Homo sapiens: one gene and its partner. The protein of the gene in region 1 interacts with the protein of each later gene in a pairwise test. Each region holds a gene or a part of one and is shown on either strand. Other genes may lie near its edges.

Region 1 (3,500 bases):
CATGCCCGGCTACTTTTTGTATTTTTTTTTTTTTTGAGATGGAGTTTTGCTCTTGTTGCCCAGGCTGGAGTGCAGTGGTGCGATCTCAGCTCACCGCAACCTCCTTGAATTCAAGTGATTCTTCTGCCTCAGCCTCTTAAGTAGCTGGGATCACAGTTGCCCACCACCACGCCCAGCTTTTTTGTATTTTTAGTACAGACAGGGTTTCACCATGTTGGCCAGGCTGGTCTCGAACTCCTGGCCTCAAGTGATCTGCCTGCCTCAGCCTCCCAAAGTGTTGGGATGACAGGCGTGAGCCACACCGCACCGGGCCACAGCTAGGAACTCCTGATGTTCTAGGAGGATGTCTCACATTGGAAGGAACCCCGTCCTCCCCCGGGGGCAGCCACAACACAGAGGCAGGGACACAGCACCGAAGCTTCTCACATCTTTATTGGAAAGGCACAGCTAAGCCCACCCTTGATACAGCATTTTCCACTTCTCTCTGTAGAGATCAGACGATTGAACACGAGATAAGCTGACTATATACAGACACAGGTGTGGGTGTTGCTTTTTTTTAAAAACACTTTTGTCTTTTTTTTTTTTTAATATCCCCTTTCTTAAAAGACAAGCTAGTATACTGGAAAAAGAAAAAAATAATAATAAAATAAAAACCAAGACAACTTTAGTACCCTCATCTTTATTTGGGAAGGGGAGGGGGAATCCTGGGTCGCCCACCCTCACCCTGCTCCTCCCAGCTCAGCTAAGCTCGTCCCTCGTGCCCCCCCTTTTGTGGGCGATGGGAGAGGACCAGGTGGGCGTGGAGGTGTCTGGAACTAGCAGAGGTGGTGAGTGGGGCAGGTGGAGGTGGGAGCATACCTGGGACCCGGGGTCGGGGGAGACTCGGGGTGCCCAGGACGGGAAAGGGGCAGCTAGCATTGCGTGCATGCAGTACCAGGGTGAGAGGGCTGTGGCCCAGGCAGACTGTCGGTTACACATGTTCAAAACGGGGGAAGGGCCGGGGCTGCTGCGCTTCGCGAGGTCTTGCTCCCTTGGGACCTGGTCTCCCATCTGACCCTCCAGGCCTTAGCTTGCCTCACATGTCAGGGCAGGTATCCACCTAACCAGGCTGCAGGGGAGGAGGAGGGAAGCCGGGAATGGGGTAGGAAGAAAGCTAGAGGTGGCCTGCAAGCTGGGCTGGGGCCCCCGCCGGCGGCCACCATAAATACTATGGGAGTTTAGCCAATCCCGAGCTCCGCTGTGTCTTGTGCTAAACATTCCTTTCTCTCCGTGCCTCTGTCTCCCCTCTGTCCCCCCTCCCAACCTCCCTGTCCCGGCCCCCTGCTAATCCGACTTCTCGCCATCATCCTCCTGGTGGGTGTCACCATCGTGCCCGTTCTTGTCTTCCTTGGAGAGGTGGGCCTGGGAACCCAGCGCGGACAGCGAGAGGAGGCCGGTGCCTGCGCTGACCGCCGGCAGCGAAGGCGGCTGCAGCCCCACGGGTAGTGGGGTCAAGGGCAGGGCCAGGGCCTGCAGCTGGGACAGCTGGTGGGCTTGGAGCTGCTGCTGCAGGGCGGGGGAGGGGAACATTAGCTGCCTGGGGCCCACCTGTCCCCCGCCCACCCGCCCAGGTCCCCATACATACTCGGATGATAGAGTTCAGCTCGGGAGCGGTGACCTGCTTGGCCCTCTCAATGGCTCCCAAGACCTGCTGCTGGTGCTGGAAGGGGGTCGGGGGAGAGGAGAGGCAGTGATTCCTCCTGATCCTGGGAGAGGAGAGGGGGACGGCCCTGAGGCCAGGAGGAGCCCCACTACCAAGTGGGCCATCATGTCTGCTCCTCCCAGTGGTTTTCAACCCCATCAGAAAGCACCCTCCCTCTCTCCAACTGCTTCCTTTCACCAAGCTCGTCTCTTCGTCTGGCCAACAGAGACAAATGGAAAAGTGCAGAAAACAATTAAAAGGGTTTTGTGCTAAGTAGTTAGGAAACAGCTTTTGAGTGAGCCCGGGAGAAACCCTGGATCCTGACCTATCCTATGTGCACAGCCACCTGCAAAGATGTGAAACATGTGAATGTTTGTGCAGTACACAACCTGCCCAACTGTACAGGGACGTCCTGATCCTAGGAGCTCCAAGACTGTGCCCTGAGTCTGGCCAAATTGAGCCCTTCTCCTACCATGGCTGGGGAGGGCCCAATGAATTCTGGCAGGGCTGGCTGGGGAATGGGCTCAGATTCAGGGCAGTTCCTCCCTGAGCTCTCCCCAAACACCTGACTCTGTGGCCAGCAGATGCTAGAATCTACCAATCTCCCTTTTTGCCTTGGCTACCAGGAAGCCTCTGTTCTGAAGGGCTCCAAGTGCCCTTTTCTCTAGGGCTTTCATTGGGTCCTGCTAAGACTTGTCCCTGGGCAAAGCAGGGCACCCAAAGGATCCTGAGATACCCACAGGGATTGAAGAGGAAGTTACAAACTTTTGACAGTAAACTTGGCAGGGACAGGAGATGGGCCTTACATGGCCCTGGGGAGGGGCGGCCTCGCATCCTGAGCCTCAGAACCCAAGAAAGGAGAAGAGGAGCTGGGCGTCAGGTTCATCTGGGTGTGTGTGTGCATGTGGTAATGTGTGCTCAGGATCACGTGTGCCCACGTGTAGCTGCACATTCCTGCATGCGTGTCCCTGTGCTGTCTGCACACACGTGTATCCGTGTCTGCATCTGTGTATCTCCCGTGTGTTGATGTGCTCGTGCCTATCTGTGTGGCTGTGTCCATGTGTGACCACCCTGTGCTACCCCTTCCCCCACAATCCCCTAACACCCTCTAGTCCTTGGTCCTGTGCAGCCCGCATGGCCTGGAGGAGGATGTCTCAAGAGGGTGAAAGGAGGAAGAGAGATGAGAAAAAAACATTCCTGGTGCAGTTTAGGCCCATCTGACATTTCTACCTATGACATGACTCACTCCAGCTGGGAATTCCAGAGCAGGGTGAGGCCCGCCCCCCACACGCCTGCACCCCTGGAGTGTCTCTGGCCCGGGGATTCTTCTGCACAGGCCGGCTCTGGTGTTCAGAGCCAGGGAGGTCCAGAGAGGGGAGGCGTGTGCCCTGGGGCGCCCAGCACACCACCCAAGATGGCTGCAGTGGACAGGGGCTGGGCAAGTGCGGGGCCCCCTCACAACCCCTCCCCAAGGCCCTGGCTCTTACCTCTTGGGAGAGGTAGGGCAGGACCTGGGCACAAATCCCGTTCAGCCTTTTGACGATCTCAGCCTGGAACACACAGATGAAGCCGGCTTCAGTCCTGGGCGGGTGGCAGGTGCAGGCTAGCCACAGGAGGCCTGCGCGGGGCCCGGCCCAGCCCTGCCACTTGCGGCTTCTAAGAGGGGCTAGGTCTGGCCAGGGTGGGATGAGCAAAGCCGTGTTCGGGCCCGAGGGCAGCCAGTCAGTGGCAAAGGTGGGGCTGGACACCGGCTGTCGCCTGCAGCTTAGAGTGAGGTAAGTGCAGGATGAGGCCAGACTGCACATTCCTCGGGGGTCGG
Region 2 (3,500 bases), on another chromosome or scaffold:
GAGAAACTGCTGGTGCTGCAGCTGCTGGTACAAGGCCGCCGCGGCCAGCTCCTGTTGCTTCTTCAGCCGCTCCTGGTCCATGTTTCCCTGCTCAGGTGAGAGCTCGGCCAGTGCCCCCAGCAGGGAGGAGGGGACTCTGCTGGACTCCTGCCGGCACCCCTCACACCCTGTCCCTCCATGCAGGGGAGAAGCGGCTCACCAGCAGTGGGGGAGGTGAGGGCCCTGGGGCAAAGGGCACGCGGCCCCACATCTTGATCACCTCGCCCAGCGGCTGGAAGCCCTCATCGCAGCCCCGCTTCACCAGCAGTGACATGGAAAAGTAGCCGGCCTGGAACCACTCTGCCATCTCCTGTGTCGTGAAGGGGCCTGGACAGGGAGCGAGGGAGCGGGAGAACCACTGGGGTCACAGGGTATGCCAGAGACACCCTGAACCAGAACGGCCTTGAGCAGCCCTCCCATCCCACACAGGTACCTTGGATCTCGCCCTGTGGGTCCTTGTAGAACCACTTCCGGGCAGCCCCATGGCTGAGCGGGAGGGCAGTGGCGGCTGCAGAGTGGCGCAGGCCCTGGGTCTGCATGGCAGCCGTGAACTGCTCCTCCTCCAAGGAGCTGTCCTGCAGGGAGGCCACCAGCTTCTCCGCCTCCTGGATGCCCAGAAAAAGAAGAAAGGCTCAGCTGCCAATCTCAGCAACATCAGGATGGGGATGGGGATGGAGCTTGAGCTGGGGCCGGGGCTGGGGCCAAGCAGGTCAGGTCAGAAGTGGGAAGGGTCCCTCCCGCTTTCTCAGGCCCCCACACCTGCTGCAGGTGCTTCAAGCCTTCATCATCCTCCAGATCTCCGGGTGGGCCAGCAGAGGAGCCCACCCCGGGACTCAGCTGGATCCCCCGAATATCATCTGGAAGGCATGAGATAGGAGGTGGAAAGAAGGGCGGGGAGGAGACAAGATAGCTTTCGCCTACTCTCACTCCAGAACACCACGCTCTTGCCATGGCTCCTCAATGTGAATGCCCTGTGTGCCCACCCCCACGAGTGGGGAGCACTTTCTCCCACAGCCCCAGCGCACCCGGGAGGTAGGCCATCCTCCCTTCCTACCTTCGGCCGCTGGGGGCTCTTTCTCTGCAGTTTCGTCCCCATCCCCGTTTGTCCCCCAGAGTGGGCCCAGGGTGGGCAGTGGGGATGGGGAGCTGGACTTCTCCTCCTGAGGAGGCAGTGGGGTCAGCTCTTTCCCACCTAGAAGAGGGAGATGGCCAGAGTTCAGAACCAAGGGCTGGGCCTGCCACGCGAGTTAGCACAAGCCCTTGAGTGTGGCTGGAACCGCGGGTCACACTCCCTTAGGCCGAGTCCACCACTTCACTTGGGTCAACTCAACTAATGGCAGAGGGAATGCGGTGCCCTGACCCTCGCCTCCACGCTGCCAGACGCGGCAGGAACATATCACAACATCGCACAACACCACACAACACCGCAGACGTCACTCCAGGTTCTACAGCTTCTTCAAGGGACTTTCAAAGGTCATTTTGATTACGCCTGATTTCTATCTGGTACACTGCCTTGAAGACATGGCTCTGCTACCCCCTGGTTCCTCCCCACCTCTCAGCACTCTTCTTCCAGATCTAAGTAGCCTGATTCTACAGGTAGGTGGGCAGCCAATGCCCAGCCCGGCAAAGAACACCAGTGCCTGCCCGGCCCAGCCCCAGGCCCGCTGGGCACCCCGCGGCTCACCTGCCTCAGGCCCTTCCTCCTCTAGCCCTTCGGAAGGTTCCTCCTCCTCCTCCAACCCTTGGAAGTCCAGCTCCTGCTCCTCAGGAATGGGCTCCTTGGGGCCCTTCTGCATGGGGCCGGGGTGGGGAGCAGAGAACAGCTGGGGTGGGTGGGGAGGAAGAGGACCCCGGAAGGGCAGGTTCCCACCCTCGCCTCCTCACAGATACCTTGAGAGGCAAGAAGGCCCCAGAGGCATCAAAGGTGCCCATTTCTTCATCCTCATCGTCCAGGCACCACTCTGGGAGCCCATCCTTGTCCTCCTCAAAGCCTTCAGGCGCTCGGCACCGCCGCAGGTGAGAGCTGCCTCCCCCTCCCCGCCCCTCCTCTTCACCACACCCTCCTCGATCCCCTCGCAAATCAAATTCAAACTTGCGCCGCCGTTCCCCATGTTCCCGCCAGCCAGCAGAGCGGGGACCACCATCTGCACAGGAAAAGTCAGGGAGAAGAAGAGTGGGTACCCAAGCGAAGCCAGCGGCCCCCTCTGCTGCAGCTCACGGAGCACCTCCAGGGCTGCTGTCCCGGCCACTCCCACACCAGCCAGCCTCTGCTCCCTCCCCGTGGCTACAGGAGCCCACCCTCTCATTACAGTTCCTGCTCCCCACTGCCCCCGCCAATGCTACCAGGCCCCAATCTCACCAGGGCTGGCGGAGCGCCAGCGGTCGCCGTCTCGCCGGGGCCCTGCTCCGAGCCTCCAGCTGCCCTCCTCCTCCTCCTCCTGTTCCTCCCGTAGGGAGCGCCAGTTCTCGCTGTCTGAGCGGGCGTGCTCCTTCCTTGGGCCAGCCCCTCCCTCCTCAAAGCCACATCGTGCTGGGAGACGGGAAGACAGGGGCAGTTATTAGAAAGGCAGCGTGGTGCCTGGACCCTCAAGAAACGTTGGGGGGGCCAGCTCCAGGCCCTCCTGCCCCCAACACCTCCGAAATAAGCACCCCCAGACTGGGCCACCCATCTTGGTCCTCCCTGCCGCCCCGGCCGCCGCCCTCAGCAGCCTCGTACCTCCATCCCGCCTTGCTGACTTCTCAAACCGCCTCTCGCCTCTGCAGCAGGGGAAACGTGTGGGTCAGAAACAGTACAGCCTCCCCTGCCACCCTGTGCAACCGCCCCATGCCTTGTCCACTGTGCCCTGAGGCAGTGGAGGGAGGAAGGGGACAAACGAAACCAGGGGTCAGGAGCACCGGGATCTCGGACAGGGCTTATCTGGTGGGCCTCTGTTACCCTCTAGCGACAGGGCCCAGGCCTCCCCTCCCTGGCCTGCCCGGCTCTGCGCCATGCCCCCTCCCCGCCCCACCTGTCATCCCAGCTCTGGCTGCGCTGGATTTCCCGGGGGCTTCGTCCAAAGGCCCCATCGCCTTCTTCGATGCTTCTTTGGTAAAAGCAGCTGTCACCACGGCCGCGGCCTAGAGAAGAGGCCAGACGCACAATGAAACCTGCTGCACGTTCTCGAAGTCAGGGGCCCAGATCTGCCCGTCCCCAGGACACGCCATCACCCCTCTACCTCGGCTCCGCGTGCTGCCCCTGCCTCGGGAGGTGCCAGCCAGGGGGGGGCCAGCCCCTTTCCCCATCAGCCTCAGCACAGCCACGCTGTTCACTGACAGGGAGAAGTTTCTCTGAGGAGGGAGCCAGGGGCGGGAGTGAGGACCCAGGCACCCAACCACCTCCACCCCCACCCCACAGCACCCTCCCCGCCTGTCTCCTCAGCGCTGGCCCCTCTCCTCCTAACCCAACCCATGGCCTCCCCTCC

The links. The genes of interacting proteins can lie anywhere in the genome.
Region 2: the proteins of TLE5 (region 1) and GIGYF1 interact in binary tests that used the Homo sapiens proteins (3 or more experiments, as listed by UniProt).

What each region holds. Positions count from the first base shown.
Region 1 is NC_000019.10:3,052,496-3,055,995, forward strand, and holds the end of TLE5 (TLE family member 5), read right to left. Parts: intron 3,232-3,500; coding exon 3,169-3,231; intron 1,700-3,168; coding exon 1,625-1,699; intron 1,546-1,624; coding exon 1,324-1,545; 3' UTR 415-1,323; downstream 1-414. UniProt on the Homo sapiens protein: Transcriptional corepressor. Acts as a dominant repressor towards other family members. Inhibits NF-kappa-B-regulated gene expression. May be required for the initiation and maintenance of the differentiated state.
Region 2 is NC_000007.14:100,684,251-100,687,750, forward strand, and holds part of GIGYF1 (GRB10-interacting GYF protein 1), read right to left. Parts: intron 3,367-3,500; coding exon 3,255-3,366; intron 3,157-3,254; coding exon 3,048-3,156; intron 2,797-3,047; coding exon 2,756-2,796; intron 2,570-2,755; coding exon 2,399-2,569; intron 2,184-2,398; coding exon 1,930-2,183; intron 1,830-1,929; coding exon 1,724-1,829; intron 1,232-1,723; coding exon 1,094-1,231; intron 897-1,093; coding exon 799-896; intron 645-798; coding exon 473-644; intron 367-472; coding exon 200-366; intron 91-199; exon of another isoform or gene 88-90; coding exon 1-87. UniProt on the Homo sapiens protein: May act cooperatively with GRB10 to regulate tyrosine kinase receptor signaling. May increase IGF1 receptor phosphorylation under IGF1 stimulation as well as phosphorylation of IRS1 and SHC1.